2 separate regions of the Homo sapiens genome follow, and region 1 is linked to region 2. The links come from fine-mapping of genetic effects on gene expression. A gene starts in region 2. The other region holds a variant in brackets. All regions are shown on one strand. Distances are from middle to middle.

Region 1 (5,000 bases), 54 kb before region 2:
TTCTGCTTTAAGATCTTGCAGTCACTGATTTTTCTAAATCTGGTCTGATGGTGTCATTCCCCTGCTTTATAAACTTTGGTGCACAAAAGGACAAATATTGTATAATTCCACTTACGTGAGGTATCTAGAATAGTCACATTCGTAGATACAGAAAGTAGATGGTGGTTACAAGTGGGTAGGGAAAGAAAGGAAGAGGGAGTTAGTGTTTAGTGCGTACAGACGCCCAGTTTGGGATGAGGAAAAGTTCTGGACATGGATGGTGGTGATGGTTGTACAATATGAATGTACTTTTCCAACAGATTATTGAACTCCTTTGGGAAAGGAGTTTCTTAATACCACTGAATTGTACATTTAAAAATGGCTAAGATGATTAATTTTATGTTACATATATTTTACCACAATTAAAAAAATTTTTTAAACTTTGCTGTGAAACCCAAGTTATAAAGCACATATTTATTTGGTAGTGTTGCATTGCTTACTAAATGAAACTCAAATTACCTAACACAGCAGGAAAGGCTCTTCAGTATTGGATTCCAACCAGGCATTCTAGACATACCTTTCCCTCTTACACCAAACTATTTCACTAACTCCAGACAAATACTGGGCTTTCATAACTCCAAATATTGTTCAGGCTGTTACTTCTGCTTGGAATTCTACTCTCAACCTGACCTTTGAGATTCCTTCTCAACCTCCAACATCCAAGCAGCCTGTGGGTCACCTTCCCCAACCTCCTTCTTCCTATCGGAATGGCCTCTGGACTGGTGTTGGTGTTTATCATGTGTCTGCTCCTCGACTAGGCAGAAAGTGCCTTGAGGAGAGAGGGACCATGCTATTCACTTCTGATCCCAGCACCCAGTGCTGTGCCTGAGACACAGTCATGTTCTCCAGAGCTTGTGGAATTGATTGCTTTCCTCTTCATACCAAAGTGTGGATGAAGATTGCATTCTGGTGAGACTGAGCTATGGCCTCTTCTCATGGTGACTTGGCCTGGGAAAAATACTCTGTATTTCAGGGAATGAGAGTCATGAGTGAAAAGAGCATCTCTGCCTCTGTATGACTGTAGATAAAGTTCTGAGCCTCATTTCTTCATTTATAAAATGGCAATAATAATACCAACCTTACAGGATTACTGGGATTAAATGGGATATAATTTGGAAAATAACTTGGCACAGACACTGATACATAGAAAATGTCCAGTAAATGTGAACTCGCTTTGGTTATTATTACAGTATGTCCTTAGAAAATGGCAGCCATTATCATTATTATATCCAATTGTTATTTATCTTTTGAAATGAGTGAGTTTTTTCTGTCTCTTCTACTAGATTGTGTTAGCCCAACAAAACACTATAGTTTCTTAGTAAATCTCTAACACTTAGTATGGTTTCTTCCAAATGATAAAGGTATTTGATGAATATTTGTAGATTGAACAATATATTATTAGTTAAAAAGTATGCAATTTTACAGATTTGTCCACATACGTTCAGGAACATTTTAAAGGTGAAACTATGAGGTATCAGAGTTAAAAATGTTTAATGCAAACAAGCATACTAAAATATGAAAATGGTATAACTTTTATGTCTTTACACAGCAAAAATGTACAGTAGATATTGTAATAACATATTTTAGTATAAATAAGTATTAATTTTAAAAGCAGATAATCCCAATTTACCTCTGTTCCCACAAAGAACTTTGTGCAGAAGTCATCTATTGGCTTGAGAAGATTGGCCATCCCACTTTCCAGATTATGATACGGGTTCATTTCTTCTGCCTTCTCTGTTTTGCTCTGTGCTAACATTTTGTCTTTCAGAGGAGTGTGGGTAGAAGAAGTACATATTTACAGGGAAACATCTTTTAAAATATAGACAGTTTACATTTTCTGCCCCTTGCC[A/T]CCTGCATTTGCCCCATTCCCTTCCCAATGTAGTGAGCATAAGTCCAAGCATTTTTAGATTTCTAATTTAGCAAAAGAACCCTCTTTTGTTCCAAACCAAACATCAATGACTGTGCTATATTATAGCTCTAGCTATACCTGCACATAGTGTAAGAGCATAGGTAATTCGGGGGCTGAAACACAAACATCATCGGCAACCTGTTTCTTTTTAAAAGTATTTGATGTCACCTTGTTTTAAAAGTCTTTTTGTAATCTAAAATTAATAAATGTTATTTATTTAAGCCTTGGAGAATAAAGAAAAGCATGAGTAAAAGAACGAAAATCATCCATTATCATGTCTCCCAGAGATAATATTAAAATATTGTGACTTTTCTTGTAAATTCACTTTTTTTTAAAAAACTGGATAATATCCTATTTTAGTTTTATATGCTGCTTTTCTATTCTCTTAAAGCTATGTCCTAAACATTTTTCCAGGTAACTTACTAGATTTTTGAAAATATGATATTCAATTCCTGGGAAAGATGGTAGAGAAATATATGCTCATAAAACCCTCCTCTACCACACTTCCTCAATATGTCCTCTGAGTCATATTACCCAAGAGGAAACAAAAAGCCATAAAACCAACCAACAAACAGACAAGTGAAAACTAAAACAGGAGAATAAAACTTCAGCTATACTAAAAAGACATATTACATTTAAAAAAAACTTTAGCATAATTCTGGACAAAACTTAAAAATGATTATCATGATTTAGTTGGTATAGTCAACCAATACTCTCTTTGTTTTGGATCTACATGTTTTGAGACGTATCTTTTCCCACTAAGTAAGACATCAAAAACGAGTATCAAAATGAACCAAACATCGAACTAGATCTTTAAATAGCTGTATTACAAAGTGTAAACCAACATTTCAAACATGACTGGGCATATTCAATCACATTATTCTCATTAAAAGATATTATTTATAATACATGTAGGAAGAGCAAAAAGGCATTTTGTACCCATTTAATGTATACAATTAAAATCATTAAAATATTTATTTCAAATTCTTCACTCACATTTCAATGTCTGTTCCTCTCTTTTTAAATCATGTACACAAATATATTAGAGAAGTAGAATATGTATATAATTTGTAAATACATATACATACATTGAGAATCTGAACTCAGAAATGTTAAACAAGGGGCTATAAGATTAAAAGTGTGGAGACTTCTGGTCTCACAAGGGGAGACAAGACCCTGATCTATAGGGTTACAACTGATAATGAAAAGGAAGAGGCAAAGGTGCGATAAATGTAAAGGAAAACATGATTAACTTGAGTGAGAGACTGGAAGTGGAGGCCTGAAGAGAGAATCAGGAATGACTCAAGTTATCAATCCTGTTCTGGACACATTGACTTGGATAGGGTAGATTGGGTTTAAACCCAGGAGACAGCAAGAGTCAGATGGAGAATTCTCAGCAGAGATAAAAGTTAGAGCCATGCAGGTAGACTGTGTTACCAATGAGGAAAGTACACAGCTGAAGCTAAAGTTCAAGGTACATTCATGAGTAGATGGCAGCAAGGTGAAATGGAGCCAGGAAAGGAGATAGAGGAGGAATAACGGAAGAAGTAGCAGGATAGGAAAATCACAGATGCTAAGAGAAGTGTGCGCTCCAAGAAAATAGGCTGAGTTAATAGCATTTAATGTGGTAGAGCAGGGGTCTGCAGCCCCTGGGCCACAGATACTGGTTCGTGGCCTGGTAGGAACTGGTCAGCACAGCAGGAGACAAGCAGCAGGTGGGCGAAAGAGCATTACTGCCTGAGCAGTATGTCCTGTCAGACAGCAGCAGCATTACATTCTCACAGAAGCGTGAACACTATTGTGAACTGGACATTCAAGGGATCTAGGTTGCACGCTCCTTATGGGAATCTAATGCCTGCCCCCCTGCCCCCACCTCCCCCTGCCACCCAGTGGAGAAATTATCTTCCACAAAACTGGTCCCTGGTGCAAAAAAGGTTGGGGAAGGCTATGATAGAGTCAAAGAAGGTGAGGCTAGGGAAAAACGTTATTAACTATGTTTATTCAGAGTTGACGGGAATAACTTTGGATACTTAGATTCAAAATCATCCTCATAGGTCATGGATTTCCCATCCTTTGAGATAGTAATAATAACAGCATCTGACATTTATTGAATGCTTACTACATGCCAGGCACTAAAGTGTGTGCTTTATAGGAACCATTTCATTCAGTCCTCACAAGAACTTCCAGGTGGTTATGCATTCATCCTCCTCCAAGGATGAGTAAACTGAGGCTTAGAGAGATTAAGTAATTTATGCAAGGTCTCACACATGGTAGTTAACATTTGCTGTGTGTTGACTATGTGCTATTCTGAGAGCTTCGTGTATAACTCATTTCATCTTCACAACACCCTATGAGGTAGTTCTCTTTATTATTTACTCCCCTCATCTTCCTCACTCTATTTTCAAATGGATTTAAAAGCAAAAAAACAACTAAGGTACAGAGAGGTAAAGTAATTTAACTTGGTCAAATAATACATTGTGGCTTTGGGATTTAAACCCAGACCATCAACTCCAGAATCTACCGTCATAGCTGCTATGCCACATTGCTTAGAAGAATATATGTCAGGCTCTAAAGGCTATTCCAACAGAGGAATTCCAAAAGCATTTAGAGCAAGGGTTTCCTTATCAGAATAAATACAGAATTTCTTAAAGTGACCACTTAGAAGAGCATGGGTTGTCATGGACCTAAAATGGCAGACAAAGGGTGGGTGGTCCCTGGCCATTAGATAGTGACAGAGTACCAGACACTGACACTAAGTCTCAACAGGCCTCAAGAGAAAATGGTGGGATAGCGAGGACTTGTGATACAGTCAAAGGAGAAACCAGTACAGGATCAAGAATCAAAATGTGATCAAGAACCTTATGAGTATATTCTAGTTAACAGGGCCAAGTCTGGTCAGAATGGGCGGATAGTCGGCAGTGTGACCAAAGGAAATCTGAAATACCATAGTTGATCTCAAAGTCTTGAAAGCTGGCCATTCACACAGGAGGCAGATCATGGCCATAGAGTGACCTTCCTCCAAAGATCAGGAACAAAACAGGGATGTCCACTC
Region 2 (5,538 bases):
TTGTTAATGCCTATTCTCAAATAAACATTTTATTTTAGAGAGTCCCCCTCTCTGCTTGCTATCTAGGTTGATAGCACACACCTGTTTACATGCTCTCATTTGTTGCCTGTGTGTATGTGTGGCTTATTCCCAGCCAAGAGATCTTGATTATGAAAGGACTTGTAGCACTGGCACCTTCTCTTTAACTGGGTTCTTCCTTACGAAAGTCTTATCTTCCCAGGTCTTCTTCAATTAGCTGACCTCATCTAGGTGGTCATCATCCTCTTTCCTCTTCCCAAATAATTTATAAGCTCATAATGCTTGTTTCCATCTTTCTACATTTATTTATTTATTTAAATTGAGACAGAGTCTTGCTCTGTCACCCAGGCTGGAGTGCAATGGCGTAATCTCAGCTCATTGCAACCTCCGCCTCCCGGGTTCAAGCGATTCTCCTGCCTCAGCCTCCCAAGTAGCTGGGATTACAGGTGTCCACCAACATGCCCAGCTAATTTTTTATTTTTTAGTAGAGATGGGGTTTTGCCATGTTGGCCAGGCTGGTCTTGAACTCCTGACCTCAGGTGATCTGCCTGCCTCGGCCTCCCAAAGTGCTGGGATTACAGGCGTGAGTCACTGCACCCAGCTTTTTATTTTATTTTTAAGAGGTGAGGTCTGGCTTCGTTGCCCAGGCTGGTCTAGAACTCCTGGCCTCAAGCAATCCTCCTGCCTCGGCCTCCCAAAATGCTGGAATTATAGACGTGAGGTACCTCTCCAGGGATATCTTTAAAACAAACAAACAAACAAACAAACAAACATTGATTTAGAATAAAACCCAAGACTAACATCTTGGGCCTCTGGTAAATGCGTCTGCAAGAACTATTGATTCTCAGTAAATCTTCACTAAGACCCTGATTAAACTTCAAGATTCTCCTGGGTCCTTCAGCCATATTTTGGCAAGTATACAACATCCACCCCTAGAGACAACTATTCCTACAATGTCTATTAGTCTATACTCTTGTTTCCTTCCTTCCATACCTATTTCCACTTCTTTCCAAGATTGGATATTCACTTATTTGAGTAGATGCTATCCTATTACTTCTCCCTTCCAAATATCTTCTGAATTCCAAGCCCTTCTCTCCCACAGCCTCCTCTGGTTCAGGTCTTTAACATGTCCTCCAAAACTGGAGCTCCAACCCTGTTTTGTGCCATGAACCTTTGGCAGCCTGGTGAAGCCCATGCATCAAATAAAAACATGGGATTACAAAGAAGACAGATTATATGGAAATATAGTTATTAAAATATTTTTTAAATTATGATAAAATAATTTGTACTTTATTAACACGTTAAATAACAAAATCTAGCTGTGGTTCTAATAACTACCTTAATTGTGAGGTAATGATGAGTATAAATAATATATTTACAATCTCTTTAATGTAATATGAAAAGAGTTACTAACAAAGTCACAGGCCTGTGAGTACTACTGTGGTTTGTTACCAATTGAATACATTTCAATTGGTGGTTAGTGAAAATAAATATGTAATTAAAAAAATCCACAGATTCTCCTCCCTGAATCCTCTGCCCTAGATCATGGACACTTAACTGGCCTCTCTGCCTCTGTTCTAACCAGAACAACTACTCAAGAGGCCAACCTCAGAGCTCTCCAAAAATGCATCTCTTATCAAGTCTCTTCCCTGTATAATGACTTTTTATGGGTCCCTATCATTCACAGTAGCATTCTCTTCCAGATTGTAGAAATGGAGCTCATTTGAAATGCAAATTTCCTGGACCTCCTTTGATTTTGCTGGTCTGGGTTGAGCCTGGGACTCCGCATTTTTAAAAGCATTGTGAGACAGTCTTGCACTGGTGGTCTATACACCAGATTTTGCAAAACAAAATAGAGTCTGAACTCACATAAGTATGGCCTTCAGTACTTTCACAGTGTGCCTCACTGCGTCAACCTTTCCAGTTCTATTCCAGCCTCACACGGTTTCCATTCATTCCCAAACAGTCGAGGACTTTCCCACCTCCCTCTCTGGAGAATCCCCTTCCCTCCCACCCCTCCTGCTGCTCCTGGTCCACACCATGCAGGCATCTCTCTGCTTGCTTCAATCTTTCTCATCATTCAAGGCAATTATGAACTTTTCCCCCAAAGCCGAAAGCCTCCCTGACTTCCTCACTCAGGCTGAAACAATCTTGTTCTCCCTGACACTTTCCAGTCATACTATGTGTAATTACTTATGTCAGGCCTCTGCAAAGGCAGAGGGCTTCAAACTCTGAGCTTCCTAAAAGATTGCTGTGAATTCATTTAGCATTCACCATACACAAGAAGAAGGAGAAAGTATTGCGCAGCAATTAGGTACTGGGTAAACTAGTCACTAGGGGAATAAGACAATGTCCTTACTTTCAAAGAGTTTGTGTTCCCTGTTCATCTTCCTCACTGTTTATCTACTCTAGCCCTTTCTAAACAGTCCTGAAGTAATCTATTTCAGCCCACATTAATCTTTTATTGTTTGACCCCCGCCCCTAGACGGATAATCAGAATCATGCTGTTTTGGCATTCATTCATTCATTCATTCATTCATTCATTCATTAACTGACTCATTCATGGTTTATTGAGTTCCTACTATGTACTAGGCAATATGATAGTCACTGGGTATATATAACATGGGAACAAGACAGTACATGCCCTTAAAGTTCTTAGAGTGTCGTTAACTGCTCTCTCGTTGCTATTTTTGTTTCCCTCACGAGGCTGGAAGCTCTTTGAAAGCAGGGAAAGACTTGTGTTTTTTGTAGTCTTCACTGCCACTAGCCTAGCACATTGCTGACACAGCGAGTGTTCAAATACCCTTGAAAGAGTGAGTAAAATACTTGTTTTCCAAGCCGCCTTTCCCATTCAGAGCTTCTCTTACCTGATACTGCTGATCTGAAAGAAAAGGAGCCTCTTTGCAGTGCCCTCAGGAAAAGCTCCTTCGAGAGCTGGAGGTGGGAGTTTGACTCTCCTCTCTCAGAAAAAGAAATCGCAAGGGCACAAACCGCAGCAACTCTGCCGACTGTTGCCAGGACGCATCTGTCGCTAAGAGAAAAGAGGCGAGTCCTCTGCGAGACTGACAGAGCATCTCTACCAATACAGTGTCCGCTCCCTAACAGTATCTTTCAAAGCAGACTTGTGATTGGTTGCCACTATGTGACGTCACTCAACGCGAACCGGGTGAGGCCAGCAGCTTTCCACTACCAAGGAAAGAGTTTTGTGTCTTAAGTATATTAATGACAGTGGCCCGGCCTGACCCCAGGTCTAACAGGCTCGGTCCATGCCTCACACCCACCGCAATCTCAGCCAGAGAAGAATCTTTCTGGGGTGTGGACCCTAGGAACCAGGAGAGAAAATGTTAAGGAGGCTGCCCGCTCAGAATCCTTTCGGGCAGCTTTCCTGCCCACCCCCTGCAGCGAGCTGGGCCCTCCTAGGGAGTGGAGAGGAAGCTGCGCCCCACTGGTTGTCGTGGGCGCCCCAGAACCCTAATGGGTTACATTTCCTTCTTGCCAGAATAACTTTTGTTTAGAATTTGACTCAAGCTGTAAATATGAGTCTCCGGGGAAGAAACTTGAATCCGTGAGTAACCCAAGGTTCATTTTATCTGTGATTAGGAGTCCGGTGGGATTCATACAGTGACGCTCAACTCTCTGAACACTGTTCTCCTCCTTTCCCTTAAAAAATAATTATAACTGTCTAATTTGTAAAGTGGCAGAATTTAATAAAGTAATGTAATTGACTGCTGTAATTGGTGTAAATAAATTTTCACACCTAATTTAAATAAAATCTTTAATTGAGAAAAGGCTGATCATTTATAACATATGAGAGTTCAGGGGGCTGCTGCGGTGGCTCATGCCTGTAATCCCAGCACTTTGGGAGGCTGAGGAAGGCAGATCACGAGGTCAGGAGATCGAGACTATCCTGGCTAACACGGTGAAACCCCGTCTCTACTAAAAATACAAAAAAATTAGCCAGGCGTGGTGGCGTGCACCTGTAAGTCCCAGCGACTCAGAAGGCTGAGGCAGGAGAATCGCTTGAACCTGGGAGCCAAGATCGCACCACTGCACTCCAGCCTGGGCGACAGAGCGAGGGTCCGTCTTAAAAAATAATAATAATAATAACTTCCTAATTTGTAAACTGGCAGAATTTAATAAAGCAATGTAATTGACTTCTGTAATTGGTCTAAATTAATTTTTACACCCAATTTAAATAAAATCTTTAATTGAGAAGAGGCTAATCATTTATAACATATGAGACTTTAAGGATCCTGAATGAAGATTTTTACGTTATGTGCAGAAAGATTATATAGATTCTTTCAAATTTCTGAAGAATTTGTGTTCACAAAATTCAAATGAATTTTACAATACAAATTATGAAGGAAAAAAACTAAAAAAGAGGTATTATCTAAACATTCTGACAACTTTTTTCCAGCTTGTCCACTCCCAGGAAGTGGAAGATTCGTTTTCCCCTGGGCTCAGTCTTGAGTCTTCTTTTGTCACTCTTCGCACTCTCCTGGTGGCGTCGGCATCATATATTCCCCTTAGCTTCAGCCATCACCACTAAACACACTGGACTTCCATTTCTACATTCTCAGCCTAACATATCTCTTAAATTCCATACCTGAATTTCCTCTAGCTACTGGACATTTCCAACTACCTGTGTAGTTCAGTTCATGTTGTTTAATAGATGCTAAATAAAGATTAAATGTAGTGAATGAATGAATGACCATAGCACCACAACTTAGCAGAGCCAAAGTCAACTCATTATCTTTCAGAAACTTTTTTTCCTTCTTTATTTTCTACCCTAGGTAATAGTATCATTGTCCATCAGTTGCAAAACGAAATCTGAAAGTCATCCTTGACTCCTCTTCTACTGCCCACAGTCAACATATCATTTAAGTTCTGTCATTTTTCTTTCTTAATTGTCTCTCAAATAATCCATTTTCTCTTAGCCATCCTCTGCCTCTGCCTTATTTCAGATATGCCTTATCTCTCACCTAGACGGTAGCAATAGTCTTTTGACTTGTTCTATCTCTTTCCCTCTAATTTATTTGCCAAGTTGCCACATAATTTTCCATAGTTTGAATCCTGACGTCACCCTGCTTAAATATGCTCAATCTGGCATATGAAACCCTGTATAAACAGGGTTCTGAAAGACACTGGAAATAAATCTGGAAGGTAATTAGTTATTTTTCTAACCTCATTTCCTGCCTCTGTCCCCAGCCCAACCCACATTTTAGTCCAGTGCTTCTTAACTGAAGACCCTTAACAGCCAAGGAGCAGGAAATCACAGGGGCCAGGAGTGAGTAGTAGGTTGATGGAAAGAAGGTTTATAACATGAAATAGACTTCTGCAACTGAGACATATTTGTTTCATATAAAGAATTTATGAAGTTTTTGCATTTGGCTTTGCAATGGATTCGTGTTTGTTTCAATTTTTAAAAAAATGTCTAAAGCCACTATTAACTAAAATTGACAGAAAACTGAATAAACACAAAGAAACCTTAGGCAACTGTGACATGCTCATCCTGTGGTT

Which allele goes with the higher level. Alleles are on the strand shown, and positions count from the first base shown. SD is a standard deviation of normalised expression in the study named.
With allele T in place of A in region 1, the expression in testis of the gene that starts at base 3,045 in region 2 is lower (small effect, 0.21 SD a copy in GTEx).

The links. PIP is the estimated chance that this variant, and not a neighbour inherited with it, causes the effect. A credible set is the group of variants that fine-mapping cannot tell apart.
Region 1: its variant is the best candidate, but not a certain one, in a credible set for the expression of DNAI3 in testis (GTEx, PIP 0.63).

The regions. Positions count from the first base shown.
Region 1 is chr1:85,114,529-85,119,528 of GRCh38, reverse strand. DNAI3 (dynein axonemal intermediate chain 3) reads right to left here. Exons shown (of 23, transcript NM_145172.5): 17 at 1,670-1,800. Among named protein-coding and RNA genes, the nearest start is that of MIR4423, 17 kb to the left of the region's middle. The variant A/T (reference allele first, on the strand shown) is at 1,889.
Region 2 is chr1:85,059,834-85,065,371 of GRCh38, reverse strand. DNAI3 (dynein axonemal intermediate chain 3) reads right to left here and starts at 3,045. Exons shown (of 23, transcript NM_145172.5): 1 at 2,886-3,045. RefSeq lists an enhancer at 2,910-3,410.